3 separate regions of the Homo sapiens genome follow, and regions 2 and 3 are each linked to region 1. Evidence: fine-mapped expression QTL. A gene starts in region 1. Each other region holds a variant in brackets. All regions are shown on one strand. Distances are between the middles of the regions.

Region 1 (10,371 bases):
GGCTTTGGGTTTGGACACTCTCCCACCTGCTATCAGGGTTTGGTAAGAACCACTGGCATCTTCGTGGTTCCTACTTACAGCCCTGCTTCTGCCAGCAGCTCCATCTTGGCCTCCACTCTCCCTCAGCACATGCTACAAATGTTGCAACCTGGCCCAAAGCTCAACCCTGGGGTCGCTGTGGAGTTTGCCTGGTGCCTTCATTACATCATCTGCAGGTAACAGGGCAATTGGGAAAGTACCACAGATCTTCCCTGGGGCTCCCTTCCATGACATTCAACTCTTTGAACTTGTGTCTGGAATTGCTATAGTGAGTTTTCCTCCCTCCACTGTCTTCTCTTTTTGGAGCCCAGGAGACCCACAGACCTTAGCTGTTTCTCTTTTTTTTTGAGACAGTCTCACTCTGTCACCCAGGCTGGATGGAGTACAGTGGTGCGATCTCAGCTCACTGCAACCTCTGCCTCCCGGGTTCAAGCGATTCTCCTGCCTCAGCCTCCTGAGTAGCTGAGACTACAGATGCGTGCCACTATGCCCGGCTAATTTTTGTATTTCTAATAGAGACGGAGTTTCGCCATGTTGGCCAGGCTGGTCTCAAACTCCTGACCTCAGGTGATCCACCCACCTCAGCCTCCCAAAGTGCTGGGATTACAGGCATAAGCCACCACGCCTAGGCAACTGCTTCTCTTCTTAAAGGTGGAATTGACTATATACCTAGGGACTGCTTGCTTCCTGTTGCCCAGCCAGGTCAGCAATCCTCTGCTCATTGGCCATGGGGCTCTGTCTACTCTGGGGTTGCTGCTGTTGGACTTGGCTGGGGCTGTCCAGAAAACCGAGGATGCAGGACTGGAGCTGGTAGGTGAAGATGTCAGGTGAAATTCTGGGAGATGTTTCTTGATACTCTGGAATGCAGGTAACCTCTTCCTTCTTACACCTGACCCCCCAATTTGTCTTTGCAGCTGGCATGCCCCGTGCTTCGATGTCTAAGCAACCTGCTAACTGAGGCAGCAGTGGAGACTGTGGGAGGGCAAATGCAGCTCAGAGATGAGCGTGTTGTGGCAGCCTTATTTATCCTTCTGCAGTTCTTTTTCCAGAAACAGCCCAGTCTGCTCCCTGAGGGCCTTTGGCTCCTCAACAACCTCACTGGTACGCACCATAATCTGCCCAGGCCTGGACATTTGGATAATGGGGATATTTCCTCATGGCCTAGGCTGAGGTGGGTAGTATTGACAGGGGTGGTGGGGGAAAGCAGTTTTTCACCCTGGTACTTCTCTTCCAGCAAACAGTCCTAGTTTCTGTACCTCCTTGCTCTCCCTGGATCTGATTGAGCCTCTCTTACAGCTGTTGCCAGTATCTAACGTGGTGAGCGTAATGGTATGTATTGGGGTTACTTGAATCCAAGATCTGGTAGTCGGATTGTATGGGACAGCAGTCCTGAGCCCTCAGATGTACCCTTAGTTGAGAGCCAGCAGGTGGTGGTGTGTGGCCTCAGGGCCCAACCAATCTAGGTGTGTGTCCCTTAAACTGGATTATTTATCCTTGGACAAATCAACTAACCACCTTAAGCTTCAGTCTCCTCACTTATAACTGAGGATAATCTTGCATCATAGGGTAGTTGTAGGAGTATGAGAACATGTATGTAGAAGAGCTTGGCATGGTGCCTGGGCATGTGGTCACCATGTCATATATTTTAGCTATTGTTATGATCTTTGTGTTTCATTCTTTGTAGACTATATATGTGTCTATCTGCAGGTGCTCACAGTTCTGTGCAATGTTGCAGAAAAGGGTCCTGCTTACTGCCAGCGGCTGTGGCCAGGGCCCCTGCTTCCCGCCTTGCTGCACACACTAGCCTTTTCTGACACTGAAGTAGTAGGCCAGAGTTTGGAGCTGCTGCATCTGCTGTTCCTGTATCAGCCAGAGGTATAGGTTTCTGGCCCACATCCTCAGTCACCCCTGTTCTGAAGCCACACAGTGGCTCCCTTCCCATCCAGTCCTAACTATAGTTGTTTCTCTGGGCCTGGCTAACCTATATAGGTTCCATGTCAGAAACTTCATCCTCTTGTTGGGGAATGCACCCTCTGGAGTAGGCTGACCCATGAGGCTGTGGGAATTGAGTCTTAGGACACAGAGACCAGGTGTGTTGAATTTTCTTCCCTGCCCCTAGGCTGTTCAGGTCTTCCTGCAGCAGTCAGGGCTGCAAGCCCTGGAAAGGCATCAGGAAGAGGCCCAGCTCCAGGATCGTGTGTATGCTCTCCAGCAGACAGCTCTTCAAGGGTGATCTTGTTTCTCAATGTCACTCATTCCCCTCTCTCTTAACATCAAGCTTGTTTGTCCAGTAGAGCCTTTGGAGATTTAGGACCATAATGAGGTCTCATGTTCTCTGCTCCCACACCTAAGCCAAGACCTTTGGGTCCCAGCTCCTCCCCTTCCACTCAGCACTATCCAGGCAGGAGGACCAAAAGGGACTCAGTGTGGTCTACTTACTCTGGGGCCCTAGAATCCCTGCCCCCCCGCCACCCTTCATGTTTGCTTCAGCAGCTGGTAGCTTTTGATGAGACAGAATAAAGTTTTATTTTTATATTAAGCTACTTTGCCTCAGTGGTTGCACAGTAAGGGGTAGAGGGTAGATGAGGACAAGAACACCCTGAGAAAGTATTTTACAGCACAAGCTTTATGAGGAATAGGAGAACACATTTTTTTCACATTATACTAAGTCCAGCAGAGCCCAGGCTCTGGGGCTGTTGCTCTTAATCCTCAGTGGAGGCTTCAGGCTTTACCACTTAGAACGTTCTCCAGGGCTCTGGTTACCTGATCAGCACTGAAGTTGTTCAAAGGGACATTCGTCTCTTGGCCAAATGCTGAAGAGAGAGAGGGAGGTGTCTTTAACTATTCTGCACCCTGGAGGCTACCAAAGTAAAATAAAAGATCTTTGTCTTTATCTTAGTCTTGTTAAGACAGGAAGAGTATTAAAGAGATATGATCAAAATACATTTGGTATGCCTAGAATTAATACAATAGGTCTCAAACACATCTAGGAAGCCCAAGTCCAAATAGAATTTTGGCTGATTCTGGATGGCCGCAATGGGTTGTTTCAGGGAAGCTTTCGGGGGCACTGTAGGCATTTATTATTAACTACGGTGAGCAATGTATTGCATGGGTCCAGCCTCAGCTGGGAGCCCATTCTCTCTCTTTTTTTTTTTTTTTTTTTGAGACGGAGTCTCGCTCTGTCACCCAGGCTGGAGTGTGGTGGCACGATCTCCACTCACTGCAACCTCCACCTCCTGGGTTCAAGCAATTCTCCTGCCTCAGCCTCCTGAGTAGCTGGGATTACAGGTGCCCGCCACCACACCCGGCTAATTTTTGTATGTTTAGTAGAGACGGGGTTTTACCATGTTGGCCAGGCTGGTCTTGAACTCCTGACCTCAGGTGATCCACCTGCTTCAGCCTCCCAAAGTGCTGGGATTACAGGCGTGAACCACCGCACCCAGCTGGGTACCCATTCTCTAGGCTCCCATAGGCTATCTAACATAATACCCAGCACAATACACTAAAGTTACTCGTGTCTATCTCCTCCTGTAGTCTACTGGCTTTTGGAAGGAGAAGCTTTTTTCCTTCTCCAATTATTAGTGCATGTCTAATGTCTACTGTGTCTCACAGATATCTACTCTGAGAACCAATCTGCTTAAGGTGGTCACTCTCCTCCACCTCCTCCCGTCATTCCCAGGGCACCATATAGTTAAAAGCTGTGATTAAAATCCTGTTATTCAGTATGTATAAACATTTATTGCATACCTACAATGTGTTAGGCAACATGATAGGAAAATTTCATTTTGCAATACATTGCCATGCCAGTCTTAGAGGGGTAAGTGCATTCTAGGAAGGGGAATAAATGTAAAGGCTCAATCCTGTTAAACTCTAGCTGCATCTAAAGTTGCAGCTAGAGTTTAACAATAGTGCAAAACAAAGTTTTGATTCCGTTTTCTAATCTCTACAGTGAGAAAAGAAGAACACGCTTCCTCCTAACTAATGAAGATTAAATGAGTTAGGCAGGGAAGCACTCAGCACAGGGCCCAGCTCTATGTGCAAAATTACTGAGATTCTCACACACTACCTGGACTGACACTGGCTACACGTTATTTGGAGAAACTATATTGACTAACTTCTCTCCTGTCTGAAGCCCATTCTTAACTACAAAAACGTCAGCTCCTGGTCCCTACGCAGGATTCGGTCAGCCTGCATACTTATGTTGCCCGGAATACAACGCATCATATAACCCTGCGAATATAAATTTCTTCATGGAAACAAGATCAACAGCAAGGCTAAAGTCCGAGTTCTAGTTTCTCCACGGGTTTCTGCACGACCTTGGGCGGTCCCTTCTCTTCTCAAACCCTTGTTCCCCTACCGGAGCCCCAGACCCCTGGCGTCCCGCACTCACCGTAGCGGGCCCAGAGCTTGGGCTGCACATCGGAGCATTCGCGGATTAGGATGGGTAGGTCGGGATTCGCCTTCTTCAGCTCCACGTAGCGTTTCTCAATGAAGTCCCTGCGGGGCCGGAGAGAGCGCCGCGCGTGCTGTGGGCGGGGGCTTCCCTCAACTTCAGGGAGGTCGAGGTCGTGACCCTGGCGTCCCGAAGCCCGCCCGCCTCACCACGCCGCGCCTCACCTGACGCCCTGGCTGCCGGGCGAGCGCTGACATAAGTGGATGCGAATCTCACGCAGGCCCAGCTTTGCCCCGACTCCTCGACTTGCTGCGGCCGCCGCCATCCTTGTTAATATCGAAGTCGCCAATTCCAGGTCTTCAGGCCAAGTGCTCCGGTCTGACCAACCGCGGACCCTAAAGCCTAGCCCATAGGCTGCATGAGGCAGGGGCGGGGTAAAGCTTGGCCAATGATATAAAAGTATTGTAGGACCGCTGCGAGGTCAATTTCTTTGCGCTCGGGGTTGGTCGGAGGGAAAAACAGGAAGCGGAAAGGCTGCGAACGCAAAGCAGTGTGGGTTGATTCTGAGGTGCACTGTGGGAAAGAGCTTGTCGCTGCGGTGTTGCTGTTGGAGACTCGATTGTTGGTGACAGCGAAAGAACGATAACAAAATGCCGGAGCGAGATAGTAAGGCTCAGGCCATCCGTTATTTCTTCCCCATGGCACTTGGGGCACTTGGCGCATTATTGTAGCTTCTGAGCTTAAGCCGGGTGTGTGTGTGTGTGTGTGTGTGTGTGTGTGTGTGTGTATGTATGTATGTGTGACGCTTGAGCCCGGAGAAGCCACAGGGTCCTAAGTGAGGCCGACAGCTCCAAACTCCGTCCCCAGTCCTCACTCCTACTCCAAGTGATGATGGGCGGCTTTTGTGCGTGGATCGCTTTCCCCCAGTCCTGTCCCCATACTTAATCCTGGGTTGCGCGTATTTATCTTTTACGTAGTATTTTAGACGTGATCTTCCGGAAGTCTTCTCTGATCCTCCAGCGCAGGATTAGGGTCCTCTGCTTTGTGCTCCCACAGCTTCTTGTAGTTTCCTATTTCAGCACTTATTACATTGTGTTGACACTGTCGCTGTTCTAACTTTTGTTCTGTATTGTTCACTACTATATCTCAAATTTTTGCATAGGATCTGACACGTAAGAGACTGATTAAATTAACGTCAATTTTTTTTGTCAGGTGAGCCGTTCTCCAACCCTTTGGCCCCCGATGGCCACGATGTGGATGATCCTCACTCCTTCCACCAGTGAGTATTTTGTGCTAGGACCATGGAAATGAGTTGGGCAATGAATAGAAAAGTGGTGGTGATGGTGAAAGAATTCTGAATGTCTTGTCATCAAGGATGGTAAAAAATTATACCCGCTGGCCCTTTATCTCTGTGAGCCTTAACTGGATCAGGCCAAGTGCATAAGGGTATTAGAAGGGAAATTCCTGCAGGAAAGGTGTTAAGTTTTTTTTTTTTTTTATACGTGTTGTGTAATTACACATTATATAGGAATTACTTCTTCCAATAGCAAATTAAAACATAGGAAATAAGGGTAAAATCATCTTTTTATTTTTTTTGAGACTGAGTTTCGCTCTTGTTGCTCAGGCTGGAATGCAGTGGTGCGATCTCGGCTCACCACAACCTCCGCCTCCCGGGTTCAAGCAATTCTCCTGCCTCAGCCTTCCGAGTAGCTGGGATTACAGGCATGTTCCACTACGCCCGGCTAATTTTGTATTTTTAGTAGAGATGGGGTTTCTCCATGTTGATCAGGCTGGTCTTGAAATCCCGACTTCAGGTGATCCACCCGCCTCTGCCTCCCAAAGTGGTGGGAGTACAGGCGTGAGCCACCGTGCCTGGCCCCCGATAAAATCATCTTTGATAACATCCCCAATTCCAGTCCATTTCTTTTTTTTTTTCTTTTCTTTTCTTTTCTTTCTTTTTTTTTTTTTTTGAGACGGAGTCTCACTGTTACCCAGGCTGGAGTGCAGTGATGCAATCTTGGCTCACTGCAACCTCTGCCTCCTGAGTTCAAGCGGTTCTCCTGCCTCAGCCTCCCAAGTAGCTGGGACTACAGGCATGTGCCACCATGCACGACTGATTTTTTTTTTTGTATTTTTAGTAGAGACAGGGTTTCACTGTGTTCGTCAGGCTGGTCTTGAACTCCTGGCCTGAAGTGATCCACCCGCCTCAGCCTCCTAAAGTGCTGGCATTACAGGCGTGAGCCACCGTGCCCAGCCTCAGTCCTTTTCTTAGAAGTAACCACAGTTACCTTTTTTGGCATATCTTTTCCTCCCGTTGCCCAGGCTGGAGTTCAATGGCATTATTTCTGCTCACAGCAACCTTTGCCTCCTGGGCTCAAGCAATTCTTCTGCCTCAGTTTCCCCAGTAGCTGGGATTACAGGCATGCCCCACCATGCTTGGCTAATTTTTGTATTAGTAGAGACAGGGTTTCGCTATGTTGGCCAGGCTGGTCTTGAACTCCTGACCTCAAATGATCTGCCCGTCTCGGCGGCCCAAAGTGCTGGGATTACAGGCGTGAGCCACTGCGCCTGGCCCTCCTACTCTTTTTTAAATGCATTTATACACATACATGCATATCTGAGGAAAACACAACATTGCTTTGTGATTTAAAATATTTGAGTTAAATGATATTATGCTGTATATATCATTTTTGCAACTTGCTTCTTTTTAAACCCTGCTCAGTGTTTCTGAGATTATCTTTCAGAGCAGTGACAAGCATTCCCTCCTTGGCTAAACTTTAGTCAGGTTCCCCAAAGAGTCCCATTTTTCAGCAGGACTCATCCGTGGCCTGCTGAGCACAGTTTTAACAAAGAAATCAACCACCGCTCCACCCCCATACCTAACCAAGTTGCTTTTAGTAATTTTCTATAAATTCTCACTTGTCCCTGTTGTATTCGGAATTAAGTTCAGTCTCTCTACTCTATTACAATGGTCTTGACTCTTGTTACAGTAGTCTTCAATAAAGTCTTCCTTGGGGAGAAGAGGAACTTGATTAGATATCAAGTTGGATTGGATATCAAGAGTGGGAAAACTTTCTGTGAACTGACTTAGGATTCCTTTTTAAAACTGAGGTCAGCAGGCCAAGGAAGAGCCCTAGTCAGAAGAGAGCTTTAAAGGAGTCTGACTTTAATTTGATCAAGAGAGGAGTCTTTGTTAGTGTACCAATTAAAATAATCTCTTGTACCATTAGTGCTGTCTTTCCCTCTTTGGGAAACACCATCATAGTTTAGTCAGTCTCCAGCTAATAAACGCTTAGTCTGTTTCAGACTGATTCTTTTCTTTTTTTTATTTTTTTGAGACAGAGTCTTGCTCTTTTTGCCCAGGCTGGAGTGTAATACCTAGATCTCGGCTCACTGCAAACTCCGCCTCCCAGGTTCAAGCGATTTTCCTGCCTCAGCCTCCTGAGTAGCTAGGATTACAGGCGCCCACCACAACGCCCAGCTAATTTTTTTGTATTTTTAGTAGAGATGGGATATCACCATGTTGGCCATGCTGGTCTTGAACTCCTGACCTCGGGTGATCCGCCTGCGTCAGCCTCCCAAAGTGCGGCGATTATAGGTGTGAGCCACTGCACCCGGCCAGACTGATTATTTTCAAGGCTATAACTGAATTAAATTTACAGGCCTTCTTATATACATATGTCAGTAATGGACCAGGCTAAATATAAATAAATGGAGTTGCTGGCTCATAGGATATATATACTTAAATTTTAACAAATACTGCAAAATTGCCCTTCAAATTGGTTATACTGGTTTACATTCTCATCAGCATTATATGAGAGAGTCCCCTTCCCAAATTCTCACTCACACTTGATTTATCAAACTTTCTGGTAGTTAACACTCTGATGCATTAAAAGTGGCATGGCATATCTGGTCGGGCGTGGTGGCTTACACCTATAATCCCAGCACTTTGGGAGGCTGAGGTGGGCAGATCACCTGAGGTCAGAAGTTTGGGACCAGCCTGGCCAACACCTCTAATAAAAATACAAAAATTAGCTGGGTGTGTTGGCGGGCACCTGTATTCCCAGCTACTTGTGAGGCTGAGGCAGGAGAATTACTTGAACCCAGGAGGCAGAGGTTGCAGTGGGCTGAGATCATGCCACTGCACTCCAGCCGGGGCAACAGAGGGAGACTCTGTCTTAAAAAAAAAAAAAAAAAGCTGGGTGCGGTGGCTCATCCCTATAATCCCAGCACTTTGGGAGGCCGAGGTGGGTGGATCACAAGGTCAGGAGTTCAAGACCAGCCTGGCCAATATGGGTGACAGTGAGACTCCGTCTCAAAAAAAAAAAAACAGTGTCATATCTTTGTTTTAATTTGTATTTCCCTGATTTCTGTTAATTTAATCATGATTTTTACTTGTTCCTTTTTCATTTCTTATTGAGTCCTAATATTTAAAATCTTTGCCTTTTCTTCTAGATCAAAACTCACCAATGAAGACTTCAGGAAACTTCTCATGACCCCCAGGGCTGCACCTACCTCTGCACCACCTTCTAAGTCACGTCACCATGAGTAAGTCTTTGGGTGATCCAACCTGTCTCCCAACTTGTTTCTTGCTCCTTCCTATTTCTTTCTACTAAGTAGAATGACTTTTAATAGTCCCTCAGGTATTTATGATACTCTCTAAAGTTTGAGAACTGCCCACCTACAAATATTGGTGTGGATTTCTGCTTGATTGAAAGTGTTACTTTGATCAGTATTCTAGGTCTTTCTAAAAATCCTCAAGGAGACTTCTTGGGGTTTCTGGGGCTGTGGCAATATTTTGCTATCAGTGAATTTCTCGTCTCTTCTAGGATGCCAAGGGAGTACAATGAGGATGAAGACCCAGCTGCACGAAGGAGGAAAAAGAAAAGGTGAAGGAAGGGTGAAGGGTTTTAGATTTTAAGGTGGATAGTGTTTAGGGGAAAGAAGTAGGGGCTAATTATGAAGCTAGAAACTAAGATTTTGTCTTGAGGCTCTCTACTTTCTTAATGAAACAGAGTGATACTTAGAGTGGCAGTAGAGGGCTTTGGAATAGGCCTATCTATATTTTAATCTCATCTTCGCTAGTTTCTTGGTGGATAACCTAGACATTTGCTTAGCCTCTCTAATCCACAGATAGAATGGAGATACAGTAGCAATAATAACTTTTATCAGGATGTCATGAGGATCAGCTGTGAAAGTACATGTAGGCATTTAGCACCAATGCCTGGCATATGGTAACCACCCAATAAATCTTGACGGCCATCATCATTATTATATCATCATCGTTATTTATATGATACGAAAGTTTCAGGACCTGGTACTTGGCTTTTCCTTTATTCTGAGAGTGGACCAGCAAATAATACGTTCTTTTCAGCTGAAATTTAGAAGGTGGTAAAAATTCAGAAGATTTTCTGATTTTTGTGTGGAAAAGTCTTATATCTATAGAGAATTGGTAGAGTTGGGTGGTATTAAAAAGTTCTGAAGTGACAGATGGAGTGTCCCAAGTTGGCACTGGAAAAGTATATCTATAAGCTGGAAGAAGTTGTAGTTCTGATTTTGAGTAACTACGAAGAGGTGGCCAGCAGTTCTATCAGGACAGACATGAGCTTTTCCCCATAGAGAGTAGGTTGGAGATGTAGGGAAGCAAGCAGGAACAGTTCTGTTGACCTTGAGGTAGCAGCTGATGAGCCTTATACATTTGCCTTTCTCTGGTCACAGTTATTATGCCAAGCTACGCCAACAAGAAATTGAGAGAGAGAGAGAGCTAGCAGAGAAGTACCGGGATCGTGCCAAGGAACGGAGAGATGGAGTGAACAAAGATTATGAAGAAACCGAGCTTATCAGCACCACAGCTAACTATAGGGCTGTTGGCCCCACTGCTGAGGCGTGAGTACTGAGGGAACAGGGCATGGTTCCCTCAGCATCCGAGAGTCATGCAA
Region 2 (10,371 bases), 130 kb before region 1:
TTTACTTTATTGATATTGTTAAGAAAAGATTATTTGCAAGTTATTTTGTAAAAGAAGAAGATAGAGAAAACTAGAAAAAGCCAGCCTCTTCTTACAGGAAACAAACTATTAATATGCCTTGTTTACAGGGGAGCCCACATTGATGTTCGTAACAAAAAGGGAAATACGCCACTTTGGCTGGCATCCAATGGAGGTCATTTTGATGTTGTGCAGTTGCTAGTGCAAGCAGGTGCTGATGTGGATGCAGCAGATAACCGGAAAATCACACCTCTTATGTCAGCATTTCGCAAGGTAATTTGATATGGGGGAAGAAAGGTCAATTTTAAGCCAATTCTAAGTTAAAACCATGTGAGAAAGATAAGTTTATCTTGGAGAATTGAGTATATTTCCATAGAAAAATCACTGCTATCTTTCCATTCTTTTTTTTTTTTTTTTTTTTTGAGACGGAGTCTTACTCTGTCACATAGGCTAGAATGCAGTGGCATGATCGCGGCTCACTGCAACCTCTGCCTCCCAGGTTCAAGTGATTCTCCTGCCTCAGCCTCCTGAGTAGCTGGGATTACAGGCATGCGTCACCACACCCGGCTAATTTTTGTATTTTTAGTAGAGATGGGGTGTCACCACGTTGGTCAGGCTGGTCTCAAACTCCTGACTTTGTGATCTGCCTGCCTCAGCCTCCCAAAGTGCTAGGATTACAGGCTCCCGACCTTATCTTTCCATTCTTTTGTGGCCAAATCTAAGATCTATGTGGTAGTTCACTATAAGCAACTTGGTTGTTAAATCACTTGGTGTCTTGACTATTTGTGATACATTGTTCATGAAACAGAAGATTTAAGAAAAACTATTATATGCAGATGGATTTTTTTGTGCCTAAAGAGGAACAAAAAGGAGTAGACTTTCATAAAAACTTACTGTATCTTCTGTGTGCGTGTGTGTGTGTGTGTGTGAGTATGAAACGGTCTCAGTCTGTCAACCAGGCTGGAGTGCAGTGGCATGATCATAGCTCACTATAGCCTCAACCTCCCAGGCTCAATTGATCCTCCCGCCTCAGCCTCCTGAGTAGCTGGGACCACAGGTGTCACTACCATGCTCAGATTTTTTTTATTTTTACTTTTTGTAGAGACGAGGTCTTGCTATGTTGCCCAGGCTGGTCTCAAACTCCTGGGCTCAGCGATTCTCCCACCTCTGCCTGCCAAAGTGCTGAGATATGGGCGTGAGCCATGCCTCTCATATATATTAAAGTTCATGCCCGGCCTCTCATATATATTAAAGTTCACTTATCTGCTGTATTTTTAAAAGCCTTCCCATTGGTATAGCTTCCCAAACTATAAACTACTTAGTAGGGCATGTAAAGACCTGCATAATAAGCTTCATGTCAACCTCCCCATACAAATCATTTATGCTACTATCCCCTTTTGCTCACTGTTTTCTAGTTACTGGCCTAGAATGCACTAAATTTTCAACTGCCTCAGGGCCTTTGCTCACTGATTTTCTTTTCCTGAAATGATTTCCTTTGCTGTTCACCTAGCTCACCTCTCTACTCATCTGTTAGCTCCAATTTTACATGTCAGTTCTCAAAGAGTATTTCTCTAACACCAAATCTGAAAAAGGTCCCTCTGTTTCTCTTTTATAGTTGAGTTTTGATTTTCCTTACCCCAATTTGTAATTATATCTTCAAACATGTACTTACCATTTTAATGCCTGTCTCGCCAACTAGACTGGTAGGTCCATGAGGACAAGAGTCATGACCATCTTTTTCAGCACTGTTTATATACCCAGTTGTTTAGCACAGTGCAATTTACATATAGTGAAATGCATGAATCTTAAGGTACATGGTTTAGTTTTGATAAACGTATACATACATGTAACCCATACCCCATAAACATATAAATTATTTCTGTAACCCTAGAAGGTTCCCTCTTGCCCACTTTTAGTCACTTCCCTGCCCCAGAGGCAAGCATTTCTCTGATTTGTATCTCCATCACACTAATTCTTAAGGATGTTTTAGAACCTTGGTAGGAAGGGAAACTATGCAAGCTTGGTTACATTAAAATAGATATGCTGGCCGGGTGCGGTGGCTCACGCCCATAATCCCAGCACTTTGGGAGGCCGAGTCAGGTGGATCACCTGAGGTCAGGAGTTCAAGACCAGCCTGGCCAACATGGTAAATCCCCGTCTCTACTAAAAATACAAAAATTAGCCAGGCGTGATGGTAGGCACCTGTAATCTCAGCTACTCCGGAGGCTGAGGCAGGAGAGTTGCTAGAACCCGGGAGGCGGAGGTTGCAGTGAGACAAGAGCGTGCCGTGGCACTCCAGCCGGGGCAACAACAGCGAGACTCCCATCTCAAAAAAAAAAAAAAAAAGATATGCTTAGAATTGATTACAGATCTTTCAACCCTTGATAATGGCATTTAGAAAGTGTTTTATTTAGATTCAAGTCCTAAGGCTCAGAAAGTTGTGATAGTCCACCTTGTTTAGTTAGTGAAGTAGAGGCAAAGTAAGACTTTGAAATTTAAAAAAAAATTACTTATTTTAGGACTCATTTCCCTTTTACACTGAGGTTCATTTTACATCACCAATGTTTGTTTAATAGATTTATTCTAGGAGATACTGTTTTTCTACAAAAGCTTTTTCTAATTTCAGTGGGATTAAATTCAGGAGAAATGTTGTCTAGTCCACCATCCATTCCTGAGCACACATTCTTGTCTTTTATGCCTTTCTTTTTATAAGCTGAATGCTGATCTTATTTTTATAATTTTAATTTTAAGCTTAATATTCTATTTGGAAGTATTTGCCTTTTTATTCTTAAATTGGTAGGCATATATGCAAAATCAAGGGATTCCTTTGTAATTCTGTTGTTTTACTTTCTTTTATTCTTAAGAATAATAATTTTTCTTTTCATGCTACCTTGTCTAAGATTGTTGTACTTCTTATAGGGTCATGTAAAAGTTGTTCAATATTTGGTAAAGGAAGTAAATCAGTTCCCTTCTGATATAGAATGCATGAGATACATAGCAACAATTACAGATAAGGTAAGTTTAATATGCTACTGAAGCACATTTTTGTTCTTTGTGGAATGATATGCCAAAGTGTGCAGTTAGGAACTTGTTCTTTTTATATTCTGAAAGGTTGGTCACCTGATCTCTTTATGCGTTTGTTTCTCCATTTGCAAAATAGAGGGGTATAATACTTTTGATAAACTATTTTGAGATTTCTACTGTGGACCATAGTCACAGTGACTACACTAAGGTACTAAACCATTAGCCTAATGAGAAGGCTTCCTAAGGACATGCAGGTTTTTAGGGAAATGGTGTCTTATTTTTGTGAAAGATTGGACTCAAAGGATAACTTAATTTGGTTTAGTGACTTTTCAGTTTGAACTTTAACCTCTGGACTTTAATGTGCTCATCAGCTTAAGTTTTATTTGGCCTCTTTCATTATATATTTACATAATTCTATTTCCTGCTGTAGGAACTGTTGAAAAAATGTCATCAATGTGTCGAAACCATTGTGAAGGCTAAAGACCAGCAAGCTGCAGAAGCAAATAAGAATGCGAGTATTCTTTTAAAGGAACTTGATCTGGAAAAGGTGAGTGGGAAAAATAATTTTCCTTTTTAGAAATTATTGAGGGTGGGGGCCGGGCACGGTGGCTCACGCCTATGATCCCAGCACTTCAGAAGGCCAAGGCGGGTGGATTACCTGAGGTCAGGAGTTCAAGACCAGCCTTGCTAACAAGGTGAAACCCTGTCTCTACTAAAAATACAAAAATTAGCCAGGTGTGGTGGCACACCCCTGTAATCCCAGCTACTCGGGAGGCTGAGGCAGGAGAATTGCTTGAGCCCGGGAGGCAGAGGTTGCAGTGAGTCGAGATCGTGCCACTGCACTCCAGCCTGGCTGACAGAGCGAGACTGTCTCAAAAAAAAAAAAAAAAAGAAAGAAATTATTGAGGGTGGGCGTGGTGGCTCACACCTGTAATCCCAGCACTTTGGGAGGCTGAGCCTAGGAGTTTGAGATCAGTTTGGTCAACATAGAGAGGATGGCCTGAGCCCAGGAGGCAGAGGTTGCAGTGAGCTGTGATTGTGCCACTGCACTCTAGCCTGGGTGACAGAGTGAGACCCCATCTCTACAAAAAAAAGTTTAAAAAACAGTTGGGCATGGTGGTACATGCCTGCAATCCTAGCTATTCAGGAGGCTGAAGTGGAAGGATCACTTGAGTCCAGGAGTTCGAGGCTCCAGTGAGCCATAATTACACACTGCAGTCCAGCCTAGGCAACAGATCGAGACTCTCTCTCTATTAAAAAAAAAAAAAAAAAAAAGGAATTGACAGATGTCATGGCTCATGCCTGTAATCCCAGCACTTTGGGAGGCTGAGGAGGGTGGACTGCTTGAGCCCCAGAGTTTGAGACCAGCCTGGGCAACATGGCAAAACCCCATCTCTACAAAAAACAAAAAATTAGCCAGGCATGGTGGCAGGTGCCTGTAGTCCCAGCAACTTGGGAGGGTGAGGTGGGAGGATGGCCTGAGCCCAGGAGGCAGAGGTTGCAGTGACCTGTGATTGTGCCACTGCGCTCTAGCCTGGGTGACAGAGTGAGACCCCATCTCAGACAAAAAGAAAATCTGCTAGAGTAAACGTGTCGCCTATATGACCAATATTCTTAATAATATATGATTCAAAGGAAATAGGTAATAGATTCTTAAACCACCATCAATTTTTTATTCTGACCTGTCATTCAAAAAAATATATTTTGAGCCCAAATATAAGGGAAGGACTAGATTTTGAGCAAGATCCCAATTTACGGCTGGGAGCGGTAGCTCACACCTGTAATCCCAGCATTTTGGGAGGCCTAGGCTAGAGGATGGCTTGAGCTCAGGAGTTCGAGACCAGGCTGGGCAACATAGTGAGACCTTGCCTCTACTAAAAGTTTAAAAAATTCACCGGGCATAGAGGTGCACACCTGTAGTCCCAGCTACTCAGGAGGCTGAGGCGAGAGGATCTCTTGGGCCTGGGAGGTTGAGGCTGCAATGAGCTATGATTGTGCAATGAGCCACTGCACTCCAGCCTGGGTGACAGAGCAAGACCCTGTCTCAAAAAAAAAAAGGTCCTGTCTGGGCGCAGTAGCTCATGCCTGTAATCCCAGCACTTTGGGAGGCCGAGGCGGGCAGATCACCTGAGGTTAAGAGTTTGAGACCAGCCTGGCCGACATGGAGAAACCCCGTCTCTGCTAAAAATACAAATATTAGCTGGGTGTGGTAGTGCATGCCTGTAGCCCCAGCTACTTAGGAGGCTGAGGCAGGAGAATTGTTTGAACCCGGGAGGCAGAAGTTGCAGTGAGCTGAGATCACGCCACTACACTCTAGCCTGGGTGACAGAGCTAGATTCTGTCCCCCCAAAAAAAAAAAAAATCCCATTTTACCAAATGACATCATTACTGCCTAAGTGGTTTTAACATTGGTCTGTGAAGAAATTTAGTAAAGCATTGGAAATCATTTGTTTATTGTTAAGATCTGGGTTACAAATGGTTTATTAGATTCCCAATTAAAGACTATCCAGAAAAAAGACGGGAGGAGCCAAGGTGGCCGAATAGGAGCAGCTCCGGTCTACAGCTCCCAGCGTGAGCGACGCAGAAGACGGGTGATTTCTGCATTTCCATCTGAGCTTTGAAGAGAGCAGTGGTTCTCCCAGCACGCAGCTGGAGATCTGAGAACGGGCAGACTGCCTCCTCAAGTGGGTCCCTGACCCCTGATCCCTGACCCCTGAGCAGCCTAACTGGGGGGCACCCCCCAGCAGGGTCAGACTGACACCTCACACGGCCGGGTACTTCAACAGACCTGCAGCTGAGGGTCCTGTCTGTTAGAAGGAAAACTAACAAACAGAAAGGACATCCACACCAAAAACCCATCTGTACATCACCATCATCAAAGACCAAAAGTAGATAAAACCAAAAAGATGGGGAAAAAACAGAGCAGAAAAACTGGAAACTCTAAAAAGCAGAGCGCCTCTCCTCCTCCAAAGGAACAAAGTTCCTCACCAGCA[A/G]CGGAACAAAGCTGGACGGAGAATGACTTTGACGAGCTGAGAGAAGAAGGCCTCAGACGATCAAATTACTCTGAGCTACGGGAGGAAATTCAAACCAAAGGCAAAGAAGTTGAAAACTTTGAAAAAAATTTAGAAGATTGTATAACTAGAATAACCAATACAGAGAAGTGCTTAAAGGAGCTGATGGAGCTGAAAACCAAGGCTCGAGAACTACGTGAAGAATGCAGAAGCCTCAGGAGCCCATGCGATCAACTGGAAGAAAGGGTATCAGCGATGGAAAATGAAATGAATAAAATGAAGCGAGAAGGGAAGTTTAGACAAAAAAGAATAAAAAGAAACGAGCAAAGCCTCCAAGAAATATGGGACTATGTGAAAAGACCAAATCTACGTCTGATTGGTGTACCTGAAAGTGACAGGGAGAATGGAACCAAGTTGGAAAACACTGCAGGATATTATCCAGGAGAACTTCCCCAATCTAGCAAGGCAGGCCAACATTCCGATTCAGGAAATACAGAGAACGCCACAAAGATACTCCTCGAGAAGAGCGACTCCAAGACACATAATTGTCAGATTCACCAAAGTCGAAGGAAAAAATGTTAAGGGCAGCCAGCGAGAAAGGTCGGGTTACCCTCAAAGGGAAGCCCATCAGACTAACAGCAGATCTCTCGGCAGAAACTCTACAAGCCAGAAGAGAGTGGGGGCCAATATTCAACATTCTTAAAGAAAAGAATTTTCAACCCAGAATTTCATATCCAGCCAAACTAAGCTTTGTAAGTGAAGGAGAAATAAAATACTTTACAGAGAAGCAAATGCTGAGAGATTTTGTCACCACCAGGCCTGCCCTAAAAGAGCTCCTGAAGGAAGCACTAAACATGGAAAGGAACAACCGGTACCAGCCGCTGCAAAATCATGCCAAAATGTAAAGACCATCGAGACTAGGAAGAAACTGCATCAACTAACGAGCAAAATAAACAGCTAACATCATAATGACAGGATCAAATTCACACATAACAATATTAACTTTAAATGTAAACGGATTAAATGCTCCAATTAAAAGACACAGACTGGCAAATTGGATAAAGAGTCAAGACCCATCAGTGTGCTGTATTCAGGAAACCCATCTCACGTGCAGAGACACACATAGGCTCAAAATAAAAGGATGGAGGAAGATCTACCAAGCAAATGGAAAACAAAAAAAGGCAGGGGTTGCAATCCTAGCCTCTGATAAAACAGACTTTAAACCAACAAAGATCAAAAGAGACAAAGAAGGCCATTACATAATGGTAAAGGGATCAATTCAACAAGAAGAGCTAACTATCCTAAATATATATGCACCCAATACAGGAGCACCCAGATTCATAAAGCAAGTCCTGAGTGACCTACAAAGAGACTTAGACTCCCACACATTAATAATGGGAGACTTTAACACCCCACTGTCAACATTAGACAGATCAACGAGACAGAAAGTCAGCAAGGATACCCAGGAATTGAACTCAGCTCTGCACCAAGCGGACCTAATAGACATCTACAGAACCCTCCACCCCAAATCAACAGAATATACATTTTTTTCAGCACCACACCACACCTATTCCAAAATTGACCACATACTTGGAAGTAAAGCTCTCCTCAGCAAATGTAAAAGAACAGAAATTATAACAAACTATCTCTCAGACCACAGTGCAATCAAACTAGAACTCAGGATTAAGAATCTCACTCAAAACCGCTCAACTACATGGAAACTGAACAACCTGCTCCTGAATGACTACTGGGTACATAACGAAATGAAGGCAGAAATAAAGATGTTCTTTGAAACCAACGAGAACAAGGACACAACATACCAGAATCTCTGGGACACATTCAAAGCAGTGTGTAGAGGGAAATTTATAGCACTAAATGCCCACAAGAGAAAGCAGGAAAGATCCAAAATTGACACCCTAACATCACAATTAAAAGAACTAGAAAAGCAAGAGCAAACACATTCAAAAGCTAGCAGAAGGCAAGAAATAACTAAAATCAGAGCAGAACTGAAGGAAATAGAGACACAAAAAAACCCTTCAAAAAATTAACGAATCCAGGAGCTGGTTTTTTGAAAGGATCAACAAAATTGATAGACCACTAGCAAGACTAATAAAGAAAAAAAGAAGAATCAAATAGATGCAATAAAAAATGATAAAGGGGATATCACCACTGATCCTACAGAAATACAAACTACCGTCAGAGAATACTACAAACACCTCTACGCAAATAAACTAGAAAATCTAGAAGAAATGGATAAATTCCTCGACACATACACTCTCCCAAGACTAAACCAGGAAGAAGTTGAATCTCTGAATAGACCAAGAACAGGAGCTGAAATTGTGGCAATAATCAATAGCTTACCAACCAAAAAGAGTCCAAGACCAGATGGATTCACAGCCGAATTCTACCAGAGGTACAAGGAGGAGCTGGTACCATTCCTTCTGAAACTATTCCAATCAATAGAAAAAGAGGGAATCCTCCCTAACTCATTTTATGAGGCCAGCATCATCCTGATACCAAAGCCGGGCAGAGACACAACCAAATAAGAGAATTTTAGACCAATATCCTTGATGAACATTGATGCAAAAATCCTCAATAAAATACTGGCAAACCGAATCCAGCAGCACATCAAAAAGCTTATCCACCATGATCAAGTGGGCTTCATCCCTGGGATGCAAGGCTGGTTCAGTATACGCAAATCAATAAAAGTAATCCAGCATATAAACAGAACCAAAGACAAAACCACATGATTATCTCAATAGATGCAGAAAAGGCCTTTGACAAAATTCAACAACCCTTCATGCTAAAAACTCAATAAATTAGGTATTGATGGGACGTATCTCAAAATAATAAGAGCTATCTATGACAACCCCACAGCCAATATCATACTGAATGGGCAAAAACTGGAAGCGTTCCCTTTGAAAACGGGCACAAGACAGGGATGCCCTCTCTCACCACTCTTATTCAACATAGTGTTGGAAGTTCTGGCCAGGGCAAATAGGCAGGAGAAGGAAATAAAGGGTATTCAATTAGGAAAAGAGGAAGTCAAATTGTCCCTGTTTGCAGACGACATGATTGTATATCTAGAAAACCCCATTGTCTCAGCCCAAAATCTCCTTAAGCTGATAAGCAACTTCAGCAAAGTTTCAGGATACAAAATCAATGTACAAAAATCACAAGCATTCTTATACACCAACAACAGAGAGCCAAATCATGAGTGAACTCCCATTCACAATTGCTTCAAAGAGAATAAAATACCTAGGAATCCAACTTACAAGGGATGTAAAGGACCTCTTCAAGGAGAACTACAAACCACTGCTCAGTGAAATAAAAGAGGATACAAACAAATGGAAGAACATTCCATGCTCATGAGTAGGAAGAATCAGTATCGTGAAAATGGCCATACTGCCCAAGGTAATTTACCGATTCAATGCCATCCCCATCAAGCTACCAATGACTTTCTTCACAGAATTGGAATAACTACTTTAAAGTTCATATGGCACCAAAAAAGAGCCCACATCGCCAAGTCAGTCCTACGCCAAAAGAACAAAGCTGGAGGCATCACACTACCTGACTTCCAACTATACTACAAGGCTACAGTAACCAAAACAGAATGTTACTGGTACCAAAACAGAGATATAGATCAATGGAACAGAACAGAGCCCTCAGAAATAACGCCGCATGTCTACAACTATCTGATCTTTGACAAACCTGAGAAAAACAAGCAATGGGGAAAGGATTCCCTATTTAATACATGGTGCTGGGAAAACTGGCTAGCCATATGTAGAAAGCTGAAACTGGATCCCTTCCTTACACCTTATACAAAAATCAGTTCAAGATGGATTAAAGACTTAAACGTTAGACCTAAAACCATAAAAACCCTAGAAGAAAACCTAGGCATTACCATTCAGGACATAGGCATGGGCAAGGACCTCATGTCTAAAACACCAAAAGCAATGGCAACAAAAGCCAAAATTGACAAATGGGATCTAATTAAACTAAAGAGCTTCTGCACAGCAAAAGAAACTACTATCAGAGTGAACAGGCAACCTACAAAATGGGAGAAAATTTTCGCAACCTACTCATCTGACAAAGGGCTAATATCCAGAATCTACAATGAACTCAAACAAATTTACAAGAAAAAAACAAACAACCCCATCAAAAAGTGGGCAAAGGACATGAACAGACACTTCTCAAAAGAAGACATTTATGCAGCCAAAAAACACATGAAAAAATGCTCCTCATCACTGGCCATCAGAGAAACGCAAATCAAAACCACAATGAGATACCATCTCACACCAGTTAGAATGGCGATCAT
Region 3 (10,371 bases), 160 kb after region 1:
TTCTTTCAATACGGACATGTCAGCAGATATTCTGTCAAAATTCCATTTAGATCCAGTCAATGGACAAATCAGTGTAAAGGGTAACATAGATTTCGAGGAAAGTAAGTCATATGAAATCCAGGTAGAAGCCACGGATAAAGGAAATCCCCCAATGTCAGATCACTGCACAGTTCTACTCGAAATTGTGGACATCAATGATAATGTACCTGAGTTAGTTATTCAATCACTATCTTTACCTGTATTAGAAGACTCTCCACTTAGCACAGTCATCGCTCTGATCAGCGTGTCCGACCGCGACTCAGGAGTCAATGGACAGGTCACCTGCTCGCTGACGCCCCACGTCCCCTTCAAGCTGGTGTCCACCTTCAAGAATTACTACTCATTGGTGCTGGACAGCCCTCTGGACCGCGAGAGCGTGTCGGCCTATGAGCTGGTGGTGACTGCTCGGGACGGGGGCTCGCCTTCACTGTGGGCCACGGCCAGCGTGTCCGTGGAGGTGGCCGACGTGAACGACAATGCGCCGGCATTCTCGCAGTCCGAGTACACGGTGTTCGTGAAGGAGAACAACCCGCCGGGCTGCCACATCTTCACGGTGTCTGCGCGGGACGCGGACGCGCAGGAGAACGCCCTGGTGTCCTACTCGCTGGTGGAACGGCGGGTGGGGGAGCGCGCGCTGTCGAGCTACGTGTCGGTACACGCGGAGAGCGGCAAGGTGTACGCGCTGCAGCCGCTGGACCACGAGGAGCTAGAGCTGCTGCAGTTCCAGGTGAGTGCGCGCGATGCGGGCGTGCCGCCTCTGGGCAGCAACGTGACGCTGCAGGTGTTCGTGCTGGACGAGAACGACAACGCGCCGGCACTGCTGATGCCTCGGGTGGGTGGCATCGGTGGCGCAGTGAGCGAGCTGGTGCCGCGGTCAGTGGGTGCGGGCCACGTGGTAGCGAAGGTGCGCGCAGTGGATGCAGACTCAGGCTACAACGCGTGGCTTTCGTATGAGCTGCAGCCTGGGACCGGCGGTGCGCGCATCCCGTTTCGCGTGGGGCTGTACACGGGAGAGATCAGCACGACCCGTGCCCTGGACGAGGTGGACGCCCCGCGCCATCGCCTACTGGTGCTGGTGAAGGACCACGGTGAACCCTCATTGACCGCCACGGCCACTGTGCTGGTGTCGCTGGTGGAGAGTGGCCAGGCACCCAAGGCCTCGTCCCAGGCGTCCGCTGGCGCCACGGGCCCGGAAGCTGCACTGGTGGATGTCAACGTGTACTTGATCGTCGCCATCTGCGCGGTGTCCAGTCTGTTGGTGCTCACACTGCTGCTATATACTGCTCTGCGGTGCTCCGCGCCGCCAACCGAAGGCGACTGTGGGCCGGGCAAGCCCACGCTGGTGTGCTCCAGCGCGGTGGGGAGCTGGTCATACTCGCAGCAGAGGCAGCAGAGGGTGTGCTCTGGAGAGGGGTTGCCCAAGACCGACCTCATGGCTTTTAGCCCTAGCCTTCCTCCTTGTCCAATTAGCCGGGATAGAGAGGAGAAACAGGATGTGGACGTTGATCTCTCAGCCAAAGTGAGTAATTTTTATTTATTCTTTCCAAAATGTCTTTGTTTTTCATTCCTCAATGTTTCCACTCCTCTGGAAATACATTAATAGTTAAGTATGAATTATGTGATTCATAATTAGACTTTTCCAGTTTTGTGGTTTTGTGGTTAAAACGGTAAGATTTTTGTTGCTAATTTTTGAACCAAATCAGCAGTAAGTTATGATATCCACACTTGTAATTTTGTTTTGTTATTAGGTGCAGTAGTAGAATTATTTTATTGCTAAATGCCTGGGTATAAGACAAATATTTTTTCTTAGATGAATTGCATTATTTAGAGAATCTGACTTCGACTTGTTTTATACTTATCCCTATACAATGCTTCTTCAATATCTTTTGCCACTTTTCATTTGGACTTCCTACTACCTGTTAGTACAAATGTTACTTGCTCATTTTATGAGTTCACCTAATGCTTATAACTCCCTATTGATTATGCTTTTCCACCTTCAGTTTCAAAAATTAGATCATTACACCTGTTGTCTTTTATGGAACCTCTTTTATTCTCTTATTCACTTGTTTGGAGTCTCAATCCTTATTTTTTACTTGAATATGATTCATTTTAGGCCTTGTGCTCTAATTTGGCAATACCGTTTATTGTTTCTTGATTTCCCAGTTGGGAAAAAAATCGAGAATAACAATTGCATTTAGAATTGCATCTTTGTTCATCTTTAGTTTATCACTACTTTATTTAATACTACTTTAATAATACTACTGTATTATATGTTAAAATTTATTACTAATAACTAAAATATCAATATGAAGTGAAAATTTAATAGTTGTATAGTATATTTATATATTCATTTTAAAAGAATGTTTTAAATCTTGTTAAAAATAATTTTCAATCTGAACAATATCTTGAAAATAATTATGGTATCTAATTTTAAAACTATCCCTACTAGCAAAACTTTTTATTCATTAGTGTCTTTTGCATACCATACTAAGGATGCTAATATGAAATAAGTTTGATAAGCCAATGTTATAATGTTATTACTGGTTAACTTCTCTGAATAGCATCCTGCCTATTAATGTGTGCCATGCAATAAGTAGAAAACTCCAAATAACCAGAACCAAATGAAATTGAAGGTAGACTTTTTTCTAATCACTACCCCTACATATTTGGTTATCTCCTCTAGCAATTAGTTGGACTCCCATTTAAGTTTCCCTACCACTGGAGAGAAATAGTAACCAACTGAAACCTGGTTAATACTCATTGACAGTGTGGGAGGTCTAACACGTAAAATAGATATTTTTCTTGACTCCTCTCCTTCCCCTCACTTCCATTTTCTTTATTTCCTTTTTTGGCACTATCCTTTGTTGCTCCCTTGTCCATGAAGTAGTAGCCATAGTGTGTCCATCTCAGGTCAGTATTTTAAAAATTTAGTTCTGTTATCAGCTTCTTGAATATAATAGAGTCAGCCAAAGTACTTGTCTTCCCAGATATGGAACTTCAATCTTCAAATCCAGCTTGCCTCTTGAAACTATTGTCTAACAAGACTCTTGGCAAAGACATTTTGAAGACTTTGGAATTTTCACTTCACAGATGTACTGATGCTATGCCAAATAAATATTGAATAGCTACCAAATAAACATTGTTTTCTATTCTGCTGCATTCCCCATCTGTACATTAAAATACCTGGTAAATGAAAATATTACAAATGAAATGGGTGAAAATGGAATTCTTCCTCCTTTTTTCCAATGTGCTTGATGTCAATGATCATTTTGTAAAAATATAGTTTGGGTCCCCACATAGTGAAAGTACTCTGGTTTCTGTTTGATTCAGAAATTTGGTGGGTTTTTTGTTGTTGTTTTGGTTTTTGTGTGTGTGTGTTTGTGTGAGTGTAGTTCTTCAATAGAGAGGGAGCGTAAAGCTATTTTCACTAGATTGATTTTTTGTTTAGACAAACAGGATGAAAATAACTTTATGGATATAGGAGGCAAGGAAAGTTTTTAAATGGCTACCATTATGTCTTTATATATTAAATTTCTTTATGTAAGAAAATGTATTGTGGTTTATTTATTGGGAAGTCTTCATTCCCCATTAATACCCAGGATGATTCAAAGATCATGATTACCAAGAATTAGAATAAAAATTAAGCTAAAACCCAAGTTTTCAACATTGAACTTGAAATACATCTTAATTGGGGAAATGTCTAGAGACTTTTTTTGTATCTTTAGAAAATCATAGAGGCTATTGAAACACCACATTTTCCCAACTAGATATGCGATCACCTTAAATTAATGCATTTTATTAGGCAATGGAAGGAAGCAAACATTTTCTGCAGGGTAAATATTTAGGAAATATTAGGTAAGTCCCTCTGAGCTATTAAACAATTAAGATACAACTATTCCCTTTAAAATATATATTCCAAAAAAGGACACACATACTCAAATGCTTATAAGAGATAAATTAATGTAATAAATGGCCCACGCGATTCCACCCTGGTGCTGCAGTTTGTAAAAGAAGAAAAAATACCTGTTCAATTGGTTTGATCATGACATTCTTCATGGGTCAGGGAAGTTTTAAGTGGTTATAAAATGGGGTAAATTGGCTTTAGAAGAGTTTAGAAATGATGTGGATTACTTATAGACAGGACAAAATGAACATGCTTGTTTATTAAAAAAAGCTATTGGAAGCAGGAAATATTCAGTTTGGCTAAAATATATAAGCACTATAGGAGAAAATAGAAGCTTAGGCACATTACATACTGGAGAACAAGCAAGTACTTATAAACTGTAAGAGTCAAAATGAGAATACCAGCGTTTCTCATGGGAGCAAATGAGTTCCAATGAATAAAATTATTTGGAATGCTTTTCCATGCAAGCTATTTGCTATAACTTCCTGCTTCCTTGCACTTTCAGCCCTGACATGACTCAAGGAAGACATCTAATTAAATGCTGATGGTCTTTGATCCTTTTATAAAACATCTGCAAATTTCCCTGTCAATAGCTTGTTCTTGGCACCAGAAGTTCCCTAGAGACCAGTCCCCTCAAGTCAACAACACCAGAAATACTAGGGTGAAGAGGGTGTTATCATTAATAAAAAAAAACCCTGGAATTCTTGGGAACACAGGAATCTGTAATGAATTTTTCTAATCAACAGTTTACAGTTACATGTTTACAAAGTGTATAGTTAGGTCTCTGTAATACTTAAAACCTGTGTTGAAAAAATTATTTCTACTGAAGTAAAAGTTGCCCCTATGGCGAAACTAAGGACCACACTCAATCAATCA[G/C]TGGTACAATGTGTACCACAGTAGTACAAAATGTATTCCTATTCTCCGAAACGACTGAAATAATAAATAAAACCAAGTAGTTTACAGTAGAGTGTGTGGGGGTTTCCACAATTGCTACTTACGGTTTGGAGCCACATGATGTCGCTCTTTACCACAAAATACATGAGAGAAGGAGGAAGAAGGGAAAATTCCTTCTATTCTTACTGGAAGGAACCATATACACTCTTTGGAGTCTGAAATATGGAGGATGCAGCTGCACTTGACTGACCGATTAAAAGATTTCCCTTGACTTTGAGAAACGATATTTAATCAGAACAAAATACTGTGCACTAAAGATGGAGTTTTCCTGGGGAAGCGGCCAGGAATCCCGGCGTCTGCTGCTCTTACTTCTTCTCCTCGCAGCCTGGGAGGCAGGGAACGGTCAGCTCCACTACTCGGTCTCCGAGGAGGCCAAACACGGCACCTTCGTGGGCCGCATCGCGCAGGACCTGGGACTGGAGCTGGCGGAGCTGGTGCCGCGCCTGTTCCGGGTGGCGTCCAAGGGCCGCGGAGGCCTTCTGGAGGTAAATCTGCAGAATGGCATTTTGTTTGTGAATTCTCGGATCGACCGGGAGGAGCTGTGCCGGCGGAGCGCGGAGTGCAGCATCCACCTGGAGGTGATCGTAGACAGGCCGCTGCAGGTTTTCCATGTGGACGTGGAGGTGAGGGACATTAACGATAACCCGCCGGTGTTCCCAGCAACACAAAAGAACCTGTCCATCGCGGAATCCAGGCCGCTTGACTCTCGGTTTCCACTAGAGGGCGCCTCGGATGCAGATATCGGGGAGAACGCCCTGCTCACTTACAGACTGAGCCCAAATGAATACTTTTCTCTGGAAAAACCACCTGATGACGAGCTGGTAAAAGGTCTTGGGCTTATATTACGGAAATCTTTAGACAGAGAAGAAGCTCCGGAGATTTTTTTAGTGCTCACAGCCACTGATGGAGGCAAACCCGAGTTGACTGGCACCGTTCAGTTACTCATCACAGTACTGGATGCCAATGACAATGCCCCAGCTTTTGACAGAACCATTTATAAGGTGAGATTACTAGAAAATGTTCCTAATGGAACATTGGTAATTAAACTTAACGCCTCAGATTTAGACGAAGGATTGAATGGGGACATTGTTTATTCATTCTCAAATGATATTTCGCCAAATGTGAAATCCAAGTTTCACATAGATCCAATTACTGGACAAATTATTGTAAAGGGATATATTGACTTTGAAGAAAGCAAATCCTATGAAATTATTGTAGAGGGCATTGATAAGGGACAGCTCCCACTTTCTGGCCATTGTAGAGTTATTGTGGAAGTAGAAGACAACAACGATAATGTCCCAGATTTGGAATTCAAGTCTTTATCACTTCCAATTAGAGAGGACGCTCCACTGGGTACAGTCATCGCCCTGATCAGCGTGTCCGACAAAGACATGGGTGTCAATGGGCTGGTCACCTGCTCCTTGACGTCCCACGTCCCCTTCAAGCTGGTGTCCACCTTCAAGAATTACTACTCGTTGGTGCTGGACAGTGCCCTGGACCGCGAGAGCGTGTCAGCCTATGAGCTGGTGGTGACCGCGCGAGACGGGGGCTCGCCTTCGCTGTGGGCCACGGCCAGTGTTTCTGTGGAGGTGGCTGATGTGAACGACAACGCTCCGGCGTTCGCGCAGCCCGAGTACACAGTGTTCGTGAAGGAGAACAACCCGCCGGGCTGCCACATCTTCACTGTGTCTGCGTGGGACGCGGACGCGCAGGAGAACGCGCTGGTGTCCTACTCGCTGGTAGAGCGGCGGGTAGGGGAGCGCGCGCTGTCGAGCTACGTTTCGGTGCATGCGGAGAGCGGCAAGGTGTACGCGCTGCAGCCGCTGGACCACGAGGAGCTAGAGCTGCTGCAGTTTCAGGTGACCGCTCGCGATGCCGGCGTGCCACCTCTGGGCAGCAACGTGACGCTGCAGGTGTTCGTGCTGGACGAAAACGACAACGCGCCAGCACTGCTAGCGCCTCGGGCGGGTGGCACTGGTGGCGCAGTGAGCGAGCTGGTGCCATGGTCGGTGGGTGTGGGCCACGTGGTGGCAAAGGTGCGCGCGGTGGATGCTGACTCGGGCTACAACGCGTGGCTTTCGTACGAGCTGCAGCCGGGGACTGGTGGCGCGCGCATCCCGTTCCGCGTGGGGCTGTACACTGGCGAGATCAGCACAACGCGTGCCCTGGACGAAACGGACGCTCCGCGCCACCGCCTACTGGTACTGGTGAAGGACCACGGCGAGCCCGCGCTGACGGCCACGGCCACTGTGCTGGTGTCACTTGTGGAGAGTGGACAGGCGCCAAAGGCCTCCTCACGGGCGTTGGTGGGCGCTGTGGGTCCCGATGCTGCGCTGGTGGATGTCAACGTATACCTGATCATTGCCATCTGCGCGGTGTCCAGCCTTTTGGTGCTCACGCTGCTGCTGTACACCGCGCTGCGGTGCTCTGCGCTGCCCACCGAGGGCGCGTGCGCTCCGGGCAAGCCCACGCTGGTGTGCTCCAGTGCGGTGGGGAGCTGGTCATACTCGCAGCAGAGGAGGCCGAGGGTGTGCTCTGGTGAGGGCCCACCCAAGACCGACCTCATGGCCTTCAGCCCCAGTTTACCTGACTCTAGGGACAGAGAAGATCAGCTGCAGACAACTGAGGAATCCTTTGCAAAGGTTAGTGTATAACATCCTTTTGTTTAATTTTCGTATTGTTTTTCTCTATCAACTTCTTCGTAAATTTATTTCTAAGAGTCAAATTTCCCTGGGTTAAAATTTTACCTCTTTTTACATATCCATTTTAACTAAAGTCTTTTGGAATTATAGGACATCAGAGCAATATATATTGCCTTCCTTCATTTTATGCTGCATTATTCAATGCATATTAACAGAACTGTAATTTCTAGTAAATTTTCACTATATTCACCCTCTTTGTTTTTGGTAATAATCAACATTTTAGAAAACATTTTACTATTATTTAACCTATTACATATAAACAAATGTGCACAGGCTGAAATAATAAAGCTCCATAAATTGTATGAAAGTGAAAAGCTCCGTTGCCTCCATCGCTGAAGCCCCTCGCATGCACCTGCCAAATCACTTCCCTTATTTTTCCTCCAGTGTAACCGCACATTTGCCTTTTATAACTGTTTGTTCGGGGCCTGTTTTGGGAACGTTATCTAATTGGACTTGCACAACATGTATTGTCTGTGCATTTGTGTGTTATTTGTATTTATCACTCATTGTTTATGAAATTATCCATGTTGTTATATGTAGTTGTAGTTTATTTATTTCTGTTTCTAGTACTATTTCATAAATATACTATACCTTATTTATTCTACTGTTCAGGAATTTGCATTGTGCCTCAATGTCTATTTCAAATAATGCCATCATAAATATATTGTACATTTCTTTGATGCCCATGTACACAGATTTCTCTCAGGTTTTTGCCTAAGAGTTGTGTTTGTGGGTCACAGAATATGTGTGTATCTTTGTCTTTTGTAGCTAACACCAACCAATTTTCCAAGATGTTTTTACCTGTTTACATTCCTAGTAGTGCATAAGGCTTTCTGCTGGGCCACATCATCTCTACATTTGTCAGGTTATTTTCATGTTAGCCATTTTACTGGGTGACTTTTGTAATCTCATTTTGAAATTATTTTATATTTAAATGAAGTTGAGTACCTTTCTATTTTATTTTGGCAATTTTTATACCTTATTTTGTGCAATAGCTGCTCAAATCTCCTATTTCTCTAGTCTGTTGTTTTTCTTTTCTTTTTTCTCTTCTTTTTGCTTCCATAGAACTTTATTTATTTCCTTATCTTGTTTTTCTTATTACTTAAACAAATCTTGTATTCTGAACATAACTCCTTTTTTTAGTAGTTTTCAACCTCATGGCTAGTTTTTAATTCTTTTTTGTCTTTTGGTGAATAGAAAGTCATAATTTTGATTAAACTCAATTTATCAATTTTTGCTTCTGATCCTATTTCACAAAGATAATTTTCTGTGGTATCTTTTATTTCATTGTTTACATTACATCTACAATCCATTTGGAATATACATATTTTTATCATTGTTGTGAGGTAGGGGTCAAGATTTATTTTTATTTCTTCTTATTATTTTTATTATACTTTAAGTTCTAGGATACATGTGCACAACGTGCAGGTTTGTTACATAGGTATACATGTGTGCCATGTTCGTTTGCTGCACCCATCAACTCATCATTTACATTAGGTATTTCTCCTAATGCTATCCCTCCCCCAGTCCCCCACACCTCAACAGGCCCCAGTGTGTGATGTTCCCCACCCTGTGTCCAAGTGCTCTCGTTGTTCAATTCCCACCTATGAGTGAGAACATGCAGTGTTTGGTTTTCTGTGCTTGTGATAGTTTGCTCAGAATGACGGTTTCCAGCTTCATCCATGTCTCTACAAAGGACATGAACTCACCCTTTTTTACGGCTGCATAGTCTTCCATGGTGTATATGTGTCACATTTTCTTAATCCGGTCTATCATTGATGGACATTTGGGTTGGTTCCAAGTCTTTGCTATTGTGAATAGTGTCGCAATAAACATACATGTGCATGTGTCTTTATAGTAGCATGATTTATAATCCTTTAGATATATACCCAGTAATGGGTCAAATGGTATTTCTAGTTCCAGATCCTTGAGGAATCGCCACACTGTCTTCCACAATGGTTGAACTAGTTTACACTCCCACCAACGGTGTAAAAGCGTTACTATTTCTCCACATCCTCTCCAGCATGTGTTGTTTCCTGACTTTTTAATGATTGCCATTCTAACTGGTGTGAGATGGTATCTCATTGTGGTTTTGATTTGCATTTCTCTGATGACCAGTGATGATGGGCATTTTTTCATGTGTCTGTTGGCTGCATAAATGTCTTCTTTTGAGAAGTGTCTGTTCATATCCTTTGCCCACTTTTTGATAGGGTTTTTTGTTTTTTTCTTGTAAATGTGTTTAGGTTCTTTGTAGATTCTGGATATTAGCCCTTTGTCAGATGGGTAGATTGCAAAAATTTTCTCCCATTCTGTAGGTTGCCTGTTCACTCTGATTGTAGTTTCTTTTGAAGATTTATTTTTTACTACCATTTTTTTGTTGGACTTTTAAAATGAGTTTGGAAGTGTTCCCTCTCCTTCAATTTTTTTTTTTTGGAAGAGTTTGAAAACAATTATCATTGATTCTTCTTTAAAAGTTTGGTAGAATTCTCCAGGAAAGATATCTGGTTTTGGGCTTTTGTTGTTGTTGTTGTTAGGAGGTTTGGATTACTGATTCAATCTCCTTACTAGTTACAGCTTTGTTTAGATTTTTTATGATTATGTCTTGGTAGTTTGTATGTTTCTAGGAATTAATCAATTTCTTCTAGGTTATTGAATTTTTTGGTATATGATTTTAAAAGCCTCTTATAATTGTGGCATCAGGTGTAATGCCACCTCTTTTGTTTCTGACTTCCAGTCTTTTTGTTTTTTTCTTAGTCTAGCTAAGGGGCTTGT

Direction of the effects. Alleles are on the strand shown, and positions count from the first base shown. SD is a standard deviation of normalised expression in the study named. Not every link is listed here.
In carriers of allele C in region 3, the expression in skeletal muscle of the gene that starts at base 5,003 in region 1 tends to be lower than with G alone (small effect, 0.25 SD a copy in FUSION).

What was found. PIP is the estimated chance that this variant, and not a neighbour inherited with it, causes the effect.
Region 2: its variant is the best candidate, but not a certain one, in a credible set for the expression of IK in fibroblasts (GTEx, PIP 0.59).
Region 3: its variant is the best candidate, but not a certain one, in a credible set for the expression of IK in skeletal muscle (FUSION, PIP 0.56).

Annotation. Positions count from the first base shown.
Region 1 is chr5:140,642,827-140,653,197 of GRCh38, forward strand. It overlaps IK (IK cytokine), which reads left to right and starts at 5,003. Exons shown (of 20, transcript NM_006083.4): 1 at 5,003-5,098; 2 at 5,645-5,711; 3 at 8,888-8,980; 4 at 9,262-9,321; 5 at 10,151-10,318. The coding sequence starts at 5,083. NDUFA2 (NADH:ubiquinone oxidoreductase subunit A2) reads right to left here and starts at 4,804. Exons shown (of 3, transcript NM_002488.5): 1 at 4,657-4,804; 2 at 4,430-4,536; 3 at 2,459-2,852. The coding sequence starts at 4,757. The coding sequence ends at 2,761. MIR3655 (microRNA 3655) reads left to right here and starts at 5,018; the gene lies at 5,018-5,100. TMCO6 (transmembrane and coiled-coil domains 6) reads left to right here. Exons shown (of 12, transcript NM_018502.5): 7 at 99-215; 8 at 738-849; 9 at 954-1,140; 10 at 1,274-1,368; 11 at 1,747-1,914; 12 at 2,159-2,578. The coding sequence ends at 2,272. RefSeq lists enhancers at 4,382-4,801, 4,542-5,077.
Region 2 is chr5:140,509,891-140,520,261 of GRCh38, forward strand. ANKHD1-EIF4EBP3 (ANKHD1-EIF4EBP3 readthrough) reads left to right here. Exons shown (of 36, transcript NM_020690.6): 22 at 129-291; 23 at 2,938-3,033; 24 at 3,473-3,589. It overlaps ANKHD1 (ankyrin repeat and KH domain containing 1), which reads left to right. Exons shown (of 34, transcript NM_017747.3): 22 at 129-291; 23 at 2,938-3,033; 24 at 3,473-3,589. Among named protein-coding and RNA genes, the nearest start is that of EIF4EBP3, 33 kb to the right of the region's middle. The variant A/G (reference allele first, on the strand shown) is at 6,036.
Region 3 is chr5:140,802,034-140,812,404 of GRCh38, forward strand. All of the region lies in intron 1 of PCDHA1 (protocadherin alpha 1), which reads left to right. All of the region lies in intron 1 of PCDHA2 (protocadherin alpha 2), which reads left to right. It overlaps PCDHA3 (protocadherin alpha 3), which reads left to right. Exons shown (of 4, transcript NM_018906.3): 1 at 1-1,558. PCDHA4 (protocadherin alpha 4) reads left to right here and starts at 5,035. Exons shown (of 4, transcript NM_018907.4): 1 at 5,035-7,539. The coding sequence starts at 5,155. It also overlaps PCDHA@. The variant G/C (reference allele first, on the strand shown) is at 4,820.